2 linked regions of the Homo sapiens genome follow. The protein of the gene in region 1 purifies or fractionates together with the protein of each later gene. This does not show direct contact. Each region holds a gene or a part of one and is shown on either strand. Other genes may lie near its edges.

Region 1 (3,500 bases):
CTAACAGGAATGTCCAGTCACTAAATAATGAACTTAAATCTTCTCACTCCTAATCCTGTGCTTCTTCCAGTATGTCTTTCTGCCTTTAGCCAATTTTTTACAATCAAATTGTTAAATCATTGATTTCTACATATGGTACACCAAGTGTAGTAATATAACAGTTTGTTAAAATGTCTGAGTTAAATTCTCAGTTCATTGATAAATTTGTGGGGTTTTTTCCTTTCATTTCAATAGCTACTTGTGTTATTTGAACACTGAGCTTACCGTATGTGTGTTTGTGTGTGTGTGTTGTTTTATTTTTTGAGACGGGGTCTAGCTCTGTCACCCAGGCCTGGAGTACAGTGGAGAAACCTTGGCTCACTGCAACCTCTGCCTCCCAGGCTCAAGTGAGCCTCCTGTGACAGCCCCTGAGTAGCTGCAACCACAGGCACACACCACCACACCTGGCTAATTTTTGTATTTTTTTGTAGAGACGAGGTTTTGCCATGTTGCCCAGGCTGGTCTTGAACTGCTGAGCTCAAGTGATCCGCTCTTCTCAGCCTCCCAAAGTGCTGGGATTACAGGCACGAGCCACTGTGCCTGGCCAAGTGTGTGGTTTTTAATGGACCATCTCTGTTATTAATGTTGGGTAAAATGGGGAACCACCATTGGATATCTATAGCATGCTAAATTCTTCAGTAAGGAGGATCACAGACTCATGTTATAGTTATTATCATCCCACTTTAAAGTTGAAGAAATTGAGGCTTAAAGTAGATAATGAATTGTTATTAAGTGTTACTCGATGTCGTGTTGCTAGTTAATGAAAGTCAGAGTCAGGTTTTGAACGAGATCTATCTTACTTCAAATCCTATTATTTTCCTGCTGCCACAGAATGGCATCAGGAAACAAGGACCATAGGGCCAGACAGTGCTGGGTTCCATCTTGACTCTGCTACTTCCTAACGTCGTAGACTCAGGAAAGTTATTTAACCTCCGAGCTTTAGTTTGTTCCTTGGAATATCAGGGCTGGTATAATATATTTACAGCATCTTGTACAGTATCTGGCACAGAATAGGTACTCATTAAATGATAGCTGCTATTATTCATTCATTCATTAAACAAAATATTTATTGAAGGCCTATTATGTGTCAAGCAGTGTACTAGGTACTATAGAAACAGGTGTTGTGGGAGGACAGACAACAAGTAAGCAAAAAAAAAAAAAAAAAATCAGGCCAGGCATGGTGGCTCACACGTGTAATCCCAGCACTTTGGGAGGCTGAGGCAGATGCATCACCTGAGGTCAGGAGTTTGAGACCAGCCTGGCCAACATAGTGAAACCCTGTCTCTACTAAAAACACACAAAAAAATTAGCTGGGCGTGGTGGCATGCGCCTGTAATCCCAGCTACTAGAAAGGCTGAGGCAAGAAAATTGCTTGAACCTAGGAGACAGAGGTTGCAGTGAGCCAAGATCACACCACTGCACTCCAGCCTGGGCGACAGAGCAAGACTCTGTCTCAAAAGAAAAAAAAAAAAAAAGACCGGGCATGGTGGCTCACGCCTGTTATCTCAGCACTTTGGGAGGCCGAGGCGGGCGGATCACCTGAGGTCAGGAGTTCGAGACCAGCCTGACCAACATGGAGAAACCCCGTCTCTACTAAAAATACAAAAAAATTAGCCAGACCTAGTGGCGCATGCCTGTAATCCTAGCTACTTGGGAGGCTGAGGCAGGAGAATTGCTTGAACCCAGGAGGTGGAGGTTATGATGAGCCGAGATTGCACATTGCACACCAGCCTGGGCAACAAGAGCGAAACTCCATCTCAAAAAAAAAAAAAAAAAAATCAAATAGTGTGATAAATTCCTTGATGAAAATAAAAATAGGATCATGTGATAGAATAACTGGAGGTTATTTTAGATCGGTGATGGGGAAAGCCTCTTTCTGACACTTAAGCTGAAATCTGAAAGACAATAAGGAGCCAGCCATGCCTAGAACAGAGAAGAGCATTCCAGGCAGAGGAACAGCTAGTACAAAACCCAAGGTGGGCTAACCCAAAGAATCACAAGAAAAGGAAACTCCAGACTGATATCCCTGAATATAGATGCACAAGTCCTCCACAGAGTTAGCAAACTGAATCCAGCAACATATAAAAAAGGATTATACATGATGACTAAGTGGGATTGTTTTTTGGGTTTTGTTTTTTGTTTTTTGTTTTTTTTTTTTGAGATGGTGTCTCGCCCTGTCGCCTAGGCTGGAGCGCAACTGTGCAGTTTCAGCTCACTGCAACCTCCGCCTTCTGGGCTCTAGCAATTCTACCTCAGCCTCCTGAGTAGCTGGGATTACAGGCATGCAGCACCATGCTCAGCTCATTTTTTTGTATTTTTAGTAGAGATGGGGTTTCACCATGTTGGCCAGGCTGATCTCAAACTCCTGAACTTGAGTGATCCGCCCACCTCAGCCTCCCAACATGCTGGCATTACAGGTGTGAGCCATCACACCCTGCCCCAAGTGGGATTTATCCCAGGAATGCAAGGTTGGTTCAACATATGAAAATCAGTCAATGTAACATATCATATTAGTAGAATAAAGGACAAAAGCTACATCACTGTCTCAATAGATGCAGAAAAAGCATTTGACAAAATCCAACACATGTAAAAAAACCTCAATAAACTAGAAATAGAAGAGCATTTCCTCAACTTGATAAAGGACATCTATGAAGACCCTGTAACTAACATCATACTTAATGAAAGAAGCCAAGTGCAGTGGTGGACACTTGTAGTCCCAGGTATTTTGGAGGCTGAGCGGGAGGATTGCTTGAGGCCAGGAGTTCGAGACCAGCCTGGACAATATAGCCAGACTTTGTCTCTTAAAAAAAAAAGAAGAAGAAAGAAAGAAAATAAAAGAAAGACAAAGCCTTTCCCTTAAGATCACAAAGAAGATAAAGATGTCTGCGCTCTCAAAGTTAAATGTCTTCTATTCAACTTTGTTCTGTTGGGGCAGTTAGACAAGAAAAAAGAAACAAAAGGCAACCAAACAAAAGTTTGGAAAGGAAGAAGTAAAGCTGTCTCTATTTGTGGATGATATGATCTAGCATATAGAAAATCATGAAGAAGTTCCAAAAAAAACTATTAGAGCTAATAAACAGTAAAGAAGACCCAAGTAAATGGAAAGACCCCAGTATTCATTGATTGGATAAACTTAGTATTGTTAAGATGTCTCTACTCCCCAAGTTGATGTACAGATTCAACACAATTCCTAAAAAAAAAATCCCAATTGGCTTCTTTGTACAAATTGACAAGCTGCTCCTAAAATGTATACAGAATTGCAAGGGGCCCAGAATAGCCAAAACTAACAAAATTGGAGGACTCATAGTTTTCAGTTTCAAAACTTGCTGTAAAACTACAGTAACCAAGATAGTGTGGTACTGGCTATAGCTCATTAGAATCGAATTAAGGGTCTAGAAATAAGCCAGGCATGATGGCTTATGCCTGTAGTCCCAGCACTTTGGGAGGCTGAGGCAGGTGGA
Region 2 (3,729 bases), on another chromosome or scaffold:
GGAGGCATCATCAGGGTCAGGTATCACGCTACCTGACTTCAAACTATACTACAAGGCTACAGTAACCAAAACAGCATGGTACTGGTACCAAAACAGATATATAGACCAATGGAACAGAACAGAGGCCTCAGAAATAACACCACACATCTACAACCATCTGATCTTTGACAAACCTGACAAAAACAAGAAATGATGAAAGGATTCCCTATTTAATAAATAGTGCTGGGAAAACTAGCTAGCCATATGTAGAAAGCTGAAACTGGATCCCTTCCTTACACCTTATACAAAAATTAACTCAAGATGGATTAAAGACTTAAATGTAAGATCTAAAACCATAAAAACCCTAGAAGAAAACCTAGGCAATACCATTCAGGACATAGGCATGGGCAAAGACTTCATGACTAAAACACCAAAAGCAATGGCAACAAAAGCCAAAATTGACAAATGGGATCTAATTAAACTAAAGAGCTTCTGCACAGCAAAAGAAACTATCATCAGAATGAACAGGCAACCTACAGAATGGGAGAAAATTTTTGCAATCTACCCATCTGAAAAAGGGCTAATATCCAGAATCTACAAAGAACTTAAACAAATTTACAAGAAAAAAACAACCGCATCAAAAAGTGGGCAAAGGATATGAACAGACACTTCTCAAAAGAAGACATTTATGCAGCCAACAGACACATGAAAAAATGCTCATCATCACTGGTTATCAGAGAAATGCAAATCAAAACCACAATGAGACACCATCTCACGCCAGTTAGAATGGTGATCATTACTACTGTAGAAAGAAGTGCTGGCTGGGTGCGGTGGCTCACACCTGTAATCCAAGCACTTTGGGAGACCAAGGCGGGCAGATCACCTGAGGTCACGAGTTTGAGACCAGCTTGGCCAACATGGGGAAACCCTGTCTCTACTAAAAATACAAAAATTAGCTGGGTATGGTGGCGTACTCCTGTAGTCCCAGCTACTCGAGAGGCTGAGGCTGGAAAATAGCTTCAGCCCTGGAGGCAGAGGGTGCAGTGAGCTGAGATAGTGCCACTGTACTCCAGCCTGGGCGACAGAGCAAGACTCGGTCTTGATAAGAAAAGAAAAGAGAAAAGAAAGAAAAAAAGAAAAGAAAAGAAAGAAAAGAGAAGAGAAGAGAAAAGAAAAGACAAAAGAAAAGAAAAGGAAAGAAAAAAAAGAAAAGAAAAAGAAGGGCCTTGTAGCATTTTTTGGCTTTGGTATAGTCACTGTGTGGTTTGTGGATTTGTGCTAACTCAAATCCCACCCCTTGCCTTTGTGTTGTCTTCAGAGAAGAGCATTCTCAGCACATTATGTGAAATTTCAAACAAACACTTTTTGAGCCACCTCTCTCCACCCCTGCCACACTCACCACACTCACCGGAGTTTGTCACTCCGCCCAGACAGGTTGGTGAGGCCTAGGAGAGCCTCATAGTTCTGAAGCCCATCCCTCTGTGTGTCCAAGAGTCTTACAAGGGGCCGCACCACCTCATACACCTGTTGGGGAGGGGTCAAGGGTTTGGTCAGGTGAGGACTTTGTTCCCTGAGTGCCTCACATTTATAGGTGACCAGCTGTAAAGTTTCCAAAGCACTTTCTCATACATTGTCTGATTTCATCCTCACAATGATCCTGACAGGCAGGATTATTTTCTTTATAGATAGGATAACTGAATTTTGGAGAGGGCAATCCGGTTTGTCAGAGGCAGAACCAGGCCTGGAATCCAGGTGCCTCCATGCATCACCCTCCGTGTGACAGCACCATGCCCCTGTCCCAGGCTCGAGGTAGAATGACAAGGGGAAAGGCCTCTAGGAGCAAAGGAGACCCCTCCCATTGCCCTATCCCATCTACCCAAGCACCTACCCGCTCCCCAGGAAAAGCAATGTCCGGATTGGAGACAGCAGCGATCTTTGCTAGAGCGTGGGCTGCCTTCACCTTGCCCACATCTGTGCCCTCCAAAGCCAGGGGAATCAGGGCCTGCAAGAAAGGGCAAGGTCACTACTTAGTCACAGACATCCAGAGGCTTCTCGCCTATCCTCCTGCTCCAGGTGCTGTCTGTCTGTCCCATGGGAGGTCCAGGAAAATTCTGCCGTATAATCAGCCCTTGCACATCATGGAAAACAATTAAATCCTTAATCACATATTCACTCCTCTTGATTCCCAGTGCACATTCAGGTCTTTACCCCACTTCCTCCCACCCACCTAAATATTCCTTCAGCTTTTGGAAAAATAAATAATTCAATCAACAAATTTTTTACTTTCTGCCCAAGCCAAACTCAATCCTTTTGTTTGTTTGTTTTGTTTTGTTTTTTTGAGACAGAGTTTCGCTCTTGCTGCCCAGGCTGGACTGCAATGGCATGATCTCGGCTCATTGCAACCTCCTCCTCCTGGGTTCAAGCAAGTCTCCTGCCTCAGGTTCCTGAGTAGCTGAGATTACAGGTGCACGCCACCAGGCCCAGCTAATTTTTGTATTTTTAATAGAGACGGAGTTGCAGCCAAACCCAATCTTAACATCAGACATCTATTGAGCACCTACCATGAATCAATACTTTCTATATTTTCTCTAATTCTTGTGACAGTCTGCAAATTGAAAGTGTGATTTTCCCCCTATTTTACAGATGAAGAAGCTGTGGCTGGGAGATTAAGTATTTTGCCTGAGGTTATGCAGTCAGAAATGGGAAGAGCAAGAACTCAACTACAAGTCTTCTACATCAAAGTCCAGGGTCTGTCTTTGCACGGTGCTTCCTTCCAACAGCAAGGAGGATAGATGGGATTCCAAAGTACATACCATCATAGCATAAAGTCAAGCAGAAATTGGCTTGGGGCTATGAGCACAGACAGCGCAGATAACTGGTGGCCGTATTCCAGGAGGTCGAGTTGGGGCAGAGGGTACATAATTCTTGCGCTAGGCAAAGAGCATGCACAAAGGCACCTTCTAGGAAGGCACCTGCCCAGTTACCTTGCCACCACCTTGAGCCACAATGGTGCCTCGGTCCTTTGGGTTGTCACACAGTGCCAGGAATACCCTGTGGGACCGAGAAGAAAGGAGAACAGTTAATACACCAGCACACCTTCCCAGGCAGCAGCAGCAGCAGGCCAGCCAGTCGGAGCCAGTGAAACCCTGGGATGAAAAGGGAGACTATGGAAAGTGCCACTTGTGTGCCTGTGCCCCAGAATTAACCACTTTGGGAAGATGACATCATGGGAATAATTGGCTGGGAAGGAAGTGAGGCCAAGTGAGGCTGCAAAGAGCACTCCCCACTATCACTATTTAGGGATGCAACCACCCAGGAGAAGCTTTTCAACTTCAATGGATGTGCCCCAGGTCCTCCGTGATCTGGCTCTGGCTTCCTCTTTTGTCTCATCCAGCACCAGCTCTTCCTATGGATTCCCTGCCCCAGACATATTGCAGGAGAACCCCAAATTCACTCATTCTCTCTCCATCCTCAGTGTCTTTGCAGATGCTATTCTCTCTGCCTGGAACCTTCCCTCTCCTGCATTTAGGTGGCTCCTTTGCTTCCTTCAGAGCTTGAGTTGTCACATCCCCCAGGAGGCCTTACCAGCTGCCCACCCACCTCCCCTCCAGTCTGGCTGGTTGGGGAACACTGCTTGTGCTCCAATCAGCCCTTTATGCTTCCCACATCATGGCATCCATTGCATCGGACTGTAGCTGTGATCTTGCCTGCCTCCCTGGCCAGGCTGCACACAGACTGTGCCTTTAATCT

The links. Proteins that work in one complex are often made in the same cells at the same time.
Region 2: the proteins of MTFMT (region 1) and UNC45B purify together in Homo sapiens (affinity purification with mass spectrometry; one large-scale study listed by BioGRID and IntAct). This does not show direct contact.

What each region holds. Positions count from the first base shown.
Region 1 is NC_000015.10:65,012,640-65,016,139, reverse strand, and holds part of MTFMT (methionyl-tRNA formyltransferase, mitochondrial), read left to right. Parts: intron 1-3,500. UniProt on the Homo sapiens protein: Methionyl-tRNA formyltransferase that formylates methionyl-tRNA in mitochondria and is crucial for translation initiation.
Region 2 is NC_000017.11:35,175,269-35,178,997, reverse strand, and holds part of UNC45B (protein unc-45 homolog B), read right to left. Parts: intron 3,031-3,729; coding exon 2,964-3,030; intron 1,982-2,963; coding exon 1,868-1,981; intron 1,504-1,867; coding exon 1,388-1,503; intron 1-1,387. UniProt on the Homo sapiens protein: Acts as a co-chaperone for HSP90 and is required for proper folding of the myosin motor domain. Plays a role in sarcomere formation during muscle cell development. Is necessary for normal early lens development.